3 linked regions of the Homo sapiens genome follow. The protein of the gene in region 2 interacts with the protein of the main gene of each other region in a pairwise test. Each region holds a gene or a part of one and is shown on either strand. Other genes may lie near its edges.

What was found.
Region 1: the proteins of SOS1 (region 2) and HDLBP interact in a two-hybrid assay, tested with the Homo sapiens proteins (one large-scale study listed by BioGRID and IntAct).
Region 3: the proteins of SOS1 (region 2) and ITSN2 interact in a two-hybrid assay, tested with the Homo sapiens proteins (2 studies listed by BioGRID and IntAct).

The regions. Positions count from the first base shown.
Region 1 is NC_000002.12:241,309,173-241,312,672, forward strand, and holds part of HDLBP (vigilin), read right to left. Parts: intron 1-3,500. UniProt on the Homo sapiens protein: Appears to play a role in cell sterol metabolism. It may function to protect cells from over-accumulation of cholesterol.
Region 2 is NC_000002.12:38,988,552-38,992,051, forward strand, and holds part of SOS1 (son of sevenless homolog 1), read right to left. Parts: intron 764-3,500; coding exon 719-763; intron 1-718.
Region 3 is NC_000002.12:24,350,537-24,354,036, forward strand, and holds part of ITSN2 (intersectin-2), read right to left. Parts: intron 1-3,500.

The DNA.
Region 1 (3,500 bases), about 200 Mb from region 2:
TCCCCTCGATACTTTATTTTCCTCCTTTCTTCTTGTCCACATTGGACATACTGCATATCTGCTGGTCTGCTGACTGCCTGACACCGCTTACCAAAACGTGACCTCCGTGAAAGTGCAGGAGAACACACTTGCATTTTCCTTACTGTGTCCCACTTCCTGGAACAGTGTCTCCAGCACGAGCCGTTGTCAGATCAATACATTTACACTACTTCGTGAAGCACCACTAAAATGATAGTAAACGATTTTTTCTTTTTTTAAGATACAAATCACGAAAGCAAAGAATAAGAATAGAGATAAGAACATTAAAATACTGGAGGCTAGAAACTGGAAACAGACCTAAAAGGGCTGAATCCTGTATCGGCAATGGGGAAGGCCAACTGGCAATATGACTGGAAGCCAGGAGACCTGAATTAAAAACAGAGTTGGCTGATAGGTTTAAAAGGCACGAAGATCCCTAAGATGCACCCCACAACTCTGCACAGCCACACAGAGCCAACCTGCACAGTCCCTCTCCTATCCTGGCAAAAAGGTATCGCTTTTCTGTCTGCAAAGGGAAGTAGAATCTTTGGACTGGGGACACCAGTTACAGAGGAGGGAAACAATTCTGAAAAGAGGGAAGTAAGCTCTTTTATGGTTACTGCTGTGCTCCCAGGCCTCTCTCCTCACTTGGCCACTCAGCCAGGCAAAGGGCTACAAGATATTTCTCTGGGGAATCTGAAGAAACCCAAAGAAGCTGACAAGGGTGCTGTAAGGAAATGGCCCAGCCAGGTGCCTCTGCAGTGAAAGCCACAGTCAGCCACAGACACAGGCTCAGAGGCCCTCTGACTCACGAGCAGGCACAAGAACATCACTGCATAGCCCAGAAAAGGCTGACAAAAGCCAAAAACCCACAACAAACCAGAGCAGCCTCAATAGTGACTTAAGGAAAAAGAAAACAGGGAAAAATAAAACCTCATCAATATCTTCCAACAGTTAACAGGAGATACCACATTCATGAAACAAAAAATAGGTTATAAAATAGGAATAGAGGGAACAAGAAAAAGCTCTTAGAAATGAGAAAAACCTTGGTAGAAGGGCTGGAAGACAAACTTGAGAATAACTTCCAGAAAGAAAATGAAAAACCAAAGGGTACAAAACATCAATTAGACAGGAGGAATGTGGTTTTCTTTTATGAGATATATTGTACAGCACGGTGAATATAGTAAATAATAATGTCGATTTCAAAAGTGCTGACAGTAATCTCATATGCTTTCACCACAAAAAACTTAAAGTATTTGAAGTGATGAATTATGTTAACTTGATTTTATTATTTATTGTATCCATAAATCGTAACATCACTTTGTACCCCCTAAATATGTACAAGTATAATTTGTCAATTTACAATTTAAAAGATAAAAACAAAAACAAAAATTTTAGAGGGGGGAAAAAGAAACCTTAAGAAAATTATGAGTGCCAATCCAGAAAGTCCAAGAGTAGAATTCTAGAGAGAGAGAGAGAAAGCAAATAGGAAGAAATCAAAGCAATAAATCAAAAAAATGCCCAGCGTTGAAGAACATGAGTTGCAAATAAACAGGACCAAAGAGTAGGCAAGACGATGGATGAAAACAGTCTCCAAGGGACATCACTGTTCTGGGAGTTCTGAATTTCACAGAAAGAAAAGCCTCTGAGGCCAGATGCAAAGCCTTCACTCCCAGCACTTCGGGAGTCTGAGGCAGGAGAATCACTTGAGGCCAGGAGTTCAAGATCAGCCTGGGCAACATAGAGAGCTCATGTCTACAAAAAGTTTTTAAAATTATCCAGGTGTGGCGGTGCATGCCTGTAGTCCCAGGTACTTGGGAGGCCGAGGCAGGAGCATCACTCAAGCCCAGGAGATTGCAGCTGCAGTGAGCTATGACAGCGCCACCGCACTACAGCCTGAGCAACAGAGCAAGACGCTGTGTCTCAAAAAAAAACAAAAGAAAGAAAGAAGAAAAAAAAGAAACAAAAACCTTCAGGTTTCATGGAGGAAAACATAGTCACACACAAAGGCTCTAAAAATGTTACGTATCAATAAAAGAGAATCAGAACGGCTTAAGACTTCAACAACACTGGAAACTTAGAGACCGCGGAGCAAAATGATGTCCAAATTCCTACTCAGGATAAGAGCAGAACGAGGCACTTTCGTACATACAAATTCTGAAAACTTCATCTGCCATGCACTTCTCAGGCAACTAGTGAAGGATGTGCTCCATCGAAGTGAGACAGTCAAATCAAGAGAATGACATAGGTTCCAGAAAAGTGAGGCTCCAACACAAGAGGGAGTGAGGAGAGTTACAGGAAGATTTCAGGCACAGACAAGCCTGCAGCAGATTGGAGGCGCTGGGAGAGATTTATTCAAGATAAAATGATAGGAATACTAATTTTCTTCAAAAGAAAACGGACAATTTCTTGAAAGATTTAGATAATTGCTTCAGAATTTGGGGTTGAATTGTAGTGACAAAATATAGAAAACTGAGCAAGCAGCAAGCAAACAAAAACAAATAAGACTTGTAATAACCCAGGAAAACAAAAAGTTATCCAGAAAAGTGAAAACAATCCTATTATACCACTTCGTCCAGCTGTAAATGGCAATATGTAGTCATAATATAAACAATCAATACTGAACTAACCAAATTAAGGATATATCACTTTGGGCAGCCATGGATCCGTTTGCACTGAGAAGGCAGAGGGTGAAAGAAAGCTAGGAACTTCCTACCTATTCTCAGTGTCAAGCGAAGAGACATCACATGAAACAGGGGTAGGAGACACAAATACAGACGTCAAGCAAATATGCTCTTTAGAGTTGGAGGCAAAGATCAAGGAAATCTACTAAGGCTGAAGTAGATACTCTGCAGGGGAGGAAACATGATTAGGGGAAGGATGTTGGCACTTCTTTCTTACAAGCCTTTCTAGGATTATCTGACTCTACAAATGACATGAAGCTGTAACCTTGATTTGAAATAAGATTAATATGAATGCTAATAAAAAGTAGTAAGGGAGAGTATGTAGTCAATGTATTCTTACCAAATTAACAACAAGTATCAACAAGATGACTAACACAACCACATGATGTCCAGACACGTCTCAGAACAAATGTCTAGCTCATCTTCAACGGTATTCGAGGAACTTCAGTGTGCTTGGTAAAACAATAGCCTACTAGGGATTTCACTTCTAAAATGTCTCTGACTTTAGAAATACCAAAAAATAACATGTAACCAAGTTTTAAAATATTATACACATGAAAAAAGGTTCTTTTCATTATTTTCTTGGTTTCCAGATGTTGAACGTTGTGGTGCTTTTACAATTGAAGAGAAAAAGCATTCTGACACATTATACTGGTTGGGGTTCTCTGCTTTTCTACTTGGTCAAAAACCTTTACACGCATTTTGGACTTTGTGTCATCATAACTTGGCAATTGGGAAAGCCGCATGATATGCTTCTTTCAGAACTTGGTTACTTCTTACCAAAAGAGGGAAAAGCTT
Region 2 (3,500 bases):
TAAAAAGAGTACTTTGTGTACTGATATTATTTAAATGATCAACATTTTGATCACCTACCTTTTTTCTTAAGAATATAGTTAATTCAGCTTGTAACTAGTATTTTCCATTGTACATATTTTGAAATTGTATGAAAGGACAGCAAAAAAATATTAGCTTAAATAATTAAAATAATGGAATTTAGTGACTTGTTAGTTTACCTTACAATTAAAATGGAACTTTATTTTGTTTATCAGTATTTAGGCTATACTTTGAATAATTACAATTATAAGAAAGTTCTTCTAAAGTCAAAAGCAGTTGTCTATAATCTATCCTGCCATCAGGCTAAGTATATTTTGTGATTTAGAAACTGCATGTAGCTGCCAGCATTCCCATATGCGCATGCATGCTCTTGCCTTTTTTTTTTTTTCAAAGTTGAGCATTAAAATATACTTAGAACTCTATAGTTGGAAAAAAGAAATGGTTAAATGTGGAAGCCACTTATTTAATATGTTCTTTTAAGAGAGAAACAAGGTTTTATAAAAAGCATGAGAAATATATAAATTTAAGCAAATCACTTATGATCTAAAGATAGCACAAGTGAAGGCCTCACTTCTAGGATGTTGCAAGCAAGGTACCAATGCTGCCAGACCCAAGAAGAGTTTTAGCAGGAAAGGTTACACTTGGTTTGATTTTTAAAGCCAAAGCAAGAATTATGAGTCTTAAACCAAATATACTAACTTGGGCCATGGGGCAGAGTAACTTGGATAAAGACGGTATCATTGCCTGTGAAAGGAAACAAGAAAAAGTAGATTTTTTTCTTTCATTGATATATTCAACTCATCTGCAAAAATTTGTATTATGATGAAAATGTTATTGTCATTGTCGTTTTAAAGAATGCTGTAACAGTTTATAGTAAAACCTCATTACTACTTACTTTTGAGAAGAAAAAAATGATATCATATTGGGAATTTAAGATTCCTTTTAGCTTTACTTGATTTCATAATTATTAAATGAAAAACATTCATAAAAAAATCGTATATTACTGAAAGACTTTTTAAAATGTAGAAACCCAATTCAAGCAAAAAGTTCAGCTGGATGTATATAAATATGCCATTTAGTAAATATTATTTTGAAAACTCAAACTTGTGAAACAAGTAATAAGTTTATTTTATGTAAGTTGAAAAATAAAAAAGTTACTAATTATATGTCTTTCAAAAATGTTCTTGGGGCATATATTCTCATCACAAAATAACTAGCACTTTGGATATAAAACAAGCTTGAAATTGATACAGGGTTTTTCCTTTTATAGTCATAAACATTTTTTTTAAAGTCATTAAACATTTGGTGCCTAGACTCATTTTACATAGGAAATTCTGATAAATTTAAATTTAGAAAGTCTAATTTCAACAATATTAATTATTTTAAGGAAAAAACTGAAAATCAAAAGCGAAAGCCCCAAGAGCATTAAAGTAGGAAAATTGAGACAAAAAGCTAGGTGATCTATACTGATTCTAAATCAATATAGTTGTTTGTTTGTACAGTGTCTCATATTAACAACAGATGGAACAGATAACGTTATAACATCCAAGAGACTAAAATAATACTAGACTGTGGTAATTTTTTTTAAATTCAGATTTCGTTTTTTTTTTTTTGCACAATAGGCAATCCCTCACATAATTTGGAATATTAAGTTTATTCAAGCATATTTGGTCAGAAGGAGGGTGATCTCACATTCCAGATTTCTAGGCAGCCCTAATTTCAAATAATCTGTCCCATTATCTGATTTCCGTATGTACTGATATTTATTTGGAACCTATGATTCCTAAGTGTAGCAATCCAGCTAATTCTAATATTACCTTTCAGAAGATTAAAATTCATTTTTCTACTCTGAAATTACATGAAGCTGTTGCTCTGCCGATGATTTTCTTCCCTATTAGCCACCTATAATTGAAGATTGCCTGGTTGTAAAAGGGAGCCAGAGATCTGACGTAATAGAGATTAAAGGAGTATCTAGCTCTAGCGTTTACCCTACTTATATATGTCCCACTTTTCCTGGAAAAGAAATAAACATATCTCCTGGAGATATGCCTCAAGAACATGATAGTACACTTAATACAATACAGGAATAGGAGTAAAATCAAAACACAAGCTCATGACTGTTACAACTATAGTCTTTAATTGTACATATGCATGCACACTTGTGTACACAGATGTAAACTTGGCTTTGAGTATATTTATATATAGCACAGGCTTAGACTCATGCATTTGGTAAATTTGGGGCACTAGTTGTCTTATTGCCTGGAAAATACTATAGAAATTCTTTTAGAATTTTACATGCACTAATCAAGAAATATATGCTAGAAATTCTTGTCAGTTAGATACTGAGTAAATTTACTGATAATGACTTAGAAGTGAAATCTAATTAATTTAAAAAACAGTATTAATTTATTAAGCATAATCCCAGATGACAGACAAATGGTCCTCAATCTTGGCTGTACATTAGAATCCTATGGGAAGTTTTTAAAAAATACTGATACCAGGTACCAATGCCAGTCTAGTGTGGGCTGGGCCTACATATTTTTTTTAAGCTCCTCAACAGATGATACTATACAGTCAGGGTTGAAACCACTCTTAAAGATACTCCCCAGTTTATAAAGGAGTCATTCTTGATAGAAACAAGCATTTTTCTATAGAAAAAAAAAAAAAGATATGATAGATAACTTCTTAAACTCACAAAAGCCTGGTAAATGCAAATATATTTGGGATTAGAAACTCATCACCTACAGCAATCTTCCAGGAGGAAAAGCCTTGCGTTATCAGCTTGACATACTTGTAATACATTCTTTTTGTTGTTAAAGAGTCCCCTAAGGGATGGAAATGGAGAAGTCAGACCTCTGACTCCCTTTTATGACCAGGCAATCTTCAAACAGGAAGGTAAAAAGAGCATTTCATCATTTTCTCCTCTCTATTATAGCAGCAGAAACAAGTAGTGAGCCAGTGGTCTTTTCTCTTTTCTCAGCAACTGTCGTCATCACCTCAAAGGTGGACCTGGCCAGGGCAAGGTGTGGAGCAGGGCTTTGAATGTATGTGTGGCAGCACTAAGTACGTGGCCACTTCTCTGCCCTGTCTTTGCCACAACGCTTTCCATGACCACTCTTGCTCATTCTGAGGTCATCTTTCTATAAGCTTCTCCAGTATTTATGTCTTTACCACTATTTTTAGCGTTTAACTGTGAATCTCTTTGCACTATGATTATTTTTAATCTCTCAGTAAGACTGCAAGCTTTCCCAGTGAAGACGTGTAAGTGTTTAGCAAGGAATAAGATATGCAGCAGATACTGGCTGAAATAATTAATTATAGGTTTTTAAAAGTAGATTATTTTGGGAAAAAACCGTAAGAGTAAAAAAAGAATAGTATAGTATTATAACTGATAAAAAAAAATTCTAGTCAAACTCTGCCTTTTGAAAAACTTAAACAATGGAACTTTGTACTGCTTTGAGTGGAATATGTTGGGATGACA
Region 3 (3,500 bases), about 15 Mb from region 2:
ATTCACAATAGCCAAAAAGTAGAAGCAACCGAGTGGAAGCAAATGTCCATCAACTACAGATGGATGAATGAATAAACAATAAACAAAATGTGGTATATCCATATAATCCATAAAATATTATTTGGCCATAAAAAGGAATGAAGTACTGATCTATGCTATAACATTGATGAATCTTGAAAACACTATGGTAAGTAAAAGAAGTGAGTCACAAAAGACCATATATTGTATAATTCCATTTATATGAAATGTCTAGGATAGGCAATTTCATAGACACAGAAAGTAGACTAGTGGCTACCTAGAGCTAGCGGTGTTGAGGGAGATGGAAAGTGACTGCCATTGGGTATAGGAGGTTCTTTTAAGAACGACGAAAATGTTCTAAAATTAGATAGTGATACTGGTTGCACAAGTCTGTGAATATACTAAAAAACACTGAACTGTAAACTTTAAAAGGGTGAATTTTACAATATGTATCTCAATAAAGCTGTTTTTAAAAAATCTATTCACGTGACATACAAGGTGTTTTAGGCTCTATCTTCCGCCTACCCTACCAGGTATTTCAACCTCCCCACCTCCACCTCCACTTGATCTTATTCCCATGCCTCCTCTCTTTGCACCTGTGGAACTACCTGCCTTCTGAGTGACACTTCTACTAATAATAGCTTCCTTTGCCACAGTCCCATTTTGTCTTGTATTATCTCATTAAACTACATACCAGCTAGTATTGTTACTTTTGTTTTCACGCCTGCCCCGCTTCTATTAGACTGTGAGCTCCTGAATGGCTCTTTAACTTCATATACCTAGTGCCCAGCAGTCACTCACATGGTAGGCACTAAAATATTCTTTAATAAGCACAGGTTAGCATTCTTTCAACTGCACAGAAGACAAACCCAGCAACTTGAGTTTGAATCCCAGTGCAAGTACTTCCTAGCTTTGTGGACTTGCACATGACATAGCTTCAATTTCCTAACCAAATAATGTGGATACAGTAGACCCCCTTATCTGCAGTTTCACTTTCTGAAGTTTCAGTTACCTGTGGTCAACCATGGTCTCAAAATACAAAATGGATAATTCCAGAAATAAACAATTCATAAATTTTTAATTGTGCACCATCCTGAGTAGCATGGTAAAATCCTGCATTGCCCGCATCTGTCCCAACCAGGATGAAAACCATCCCTTTGTCCAGGGTGTATCCACTGTGTCTATGCTGCCTGCCCATTAGTCACTTAGTAGCTGTCTCAGTTATCAGACCGACTGTCACAGTATCACAGTGCTTGTGTTCAAGTAACCCTTATTTTACTTAATAATGACCCCAAAGTGCAAGAGTAGTGAGGCTGGCAATTCGGATATGCCAAGGAGAAGCCACTTCCTTCAAGTGAAAAGGTGAAAGTTCTCAACTTAATATAGAAGGGAAAAAATTGTATGCTGAGGTTGCTAAGATCTACAGTAAGAACAAGTCTTATATCTGTGAAATTGTTAACAGTATATTGTTATAATTGTTCAATTTTATTATTATTAATCTCTTACTGTGCCTAATTTATAAATTAAACTTTATCATAGGTATGTATATATAGGAAAAAACATAGTGTATATAGGTTTCTGTACCATCCATGGTTTCAAGCAACCACTAGGGGTTTTGGAATGTATTCCTTGCAGACAAGCAAAGTACTACTGTAATCGTACCTAAATGCCAGGTTATTTTAAGGCTTAGATGTCATGTCTGGAAAACATCTGGCACATAGAAGGTGTCCATAAATTATGATTATTACAACAATTATTTCAACATTATTTTAATTATAATCACTAATCAACTTTTAGTTGTAATCACAATCACTAATCACTAATCTAATTTGTTTTACTGAAACAAATTAGAGTTGTGCCAATTATTAATAAAAGGACATGTTTTTCTCACTTTAATCAATATTTGAGAAAAAAGTTATCATTTCTATCTAGAGGCTTAGGGTCCCAAATATACAAAGCATTAAGACCTAAAAGCCTCAAAGAGGATAACTTCTCTATACAAACTTAGTTCTTAATTCTAGTTCTGCAATTTAGCAACCTCAGTTTAGATTTTTAAACACAAATTATAAGCTCAGATTTTTATAAATATTGAGTTTAGCCTTCAAAAAAATCAACCAATAAGCCAGGAGACATAAAAGGACAGGAATAGCAAACTAATACTGAAGTGGTTAGTACTCAAATTCTATTGAAGATTTAAATCAAACCAATTTTTGAAGAATAGTCAACAACTCTGAACAAGACAATTCACCCACACAAAGGGGGATAAAAATACCTAAGAATAGCTTGTGACTCAGCCTGCATTCCTATAAGGGGTCCCAGGGGGACTGATAATATTTAGCCTATTGTCATCTGTCTCATATCAGAACTAAATATTACAGCAAAACTATTTACTTGACATGAATAAAAAGTACAGAGGGAAAGAAATTCAGACAGATGCTTCACTTTCAAGTAAAACATCACCTCTTTGAAACAAAGACAACTTTTAAGTTTTGAAGCCATACAAGAAAACAAAAGAAAGAATAAGCAGATTCTATATCATCTATATAACAAATATTTAAAACTTCCTTGAAAACAAACTTAAAAGGTAAATGGGGAAAAATCACAACACATGATAAGCAGTTGATATTTTTAATGTACATAGGGCTATTAAAATAGATAACGAAAACACTAAGACCTCAAATAAATAATCTACGAAAGAAGAAACAGAAGAAATAAAAGTAGTTAATAAATGTTAACATCACTAATAATTAAGAAAACGAGGCTACCCACAGTGGCTCATGCCTGTAATCCCAGCACTTTGGGAGGCTGAGTGGGGGCGAATCGTCTGAACTCAGGAGTTTGAGGCCAGCCTGGGAAACATGGTGTAAACCTGCCTCAATAAAAACTACAAAAAAATTAGTTGGTCCCAGCGGGAGGCTGAGGTGGGAGGATGGCTTGAGCCCAGGAGAAGGAGGTTGCAGTGAGCTGAGATGGCAGTGAGCTGAGATCCCGCCACTGCACTCCAGCCTGGGCAACAGAGCCAGACCCTGTCTCAAAGACAAAACAAAACAAAACACTGGCCAATACCCAGGGCTAGCAAAGGTGAATTAAATAGGGTGCTTGCAGGTACAGCCCATGGGAATACGTATTGGTATCACTCTTCAGAAGGCACTGTGAAAACATATATCAAGAGTCCCACCAACATTCATATCCTATAAAGCAATAATTTCATTTCTGGGAATCTGTCATAAGGAAATAACAGTAAATGTGGGAAATGCTTTAATTACAAAGATATGGCAGCATTAGTAATCATTGAAAAAAACTAAAAATGAATGTCCAAAAATAAAGGAATATACTAAGCCAAGTATCATGCTTCCACTTAAAATCAAATTCATATGATATGTGAATTAAATCTCAATAAAGCTATTTTGTGATCAAGTTCAGTTAGACCACATAATAACATGGAAACTGCTTATGTTCTTACAATTTAAAACTTACATTTT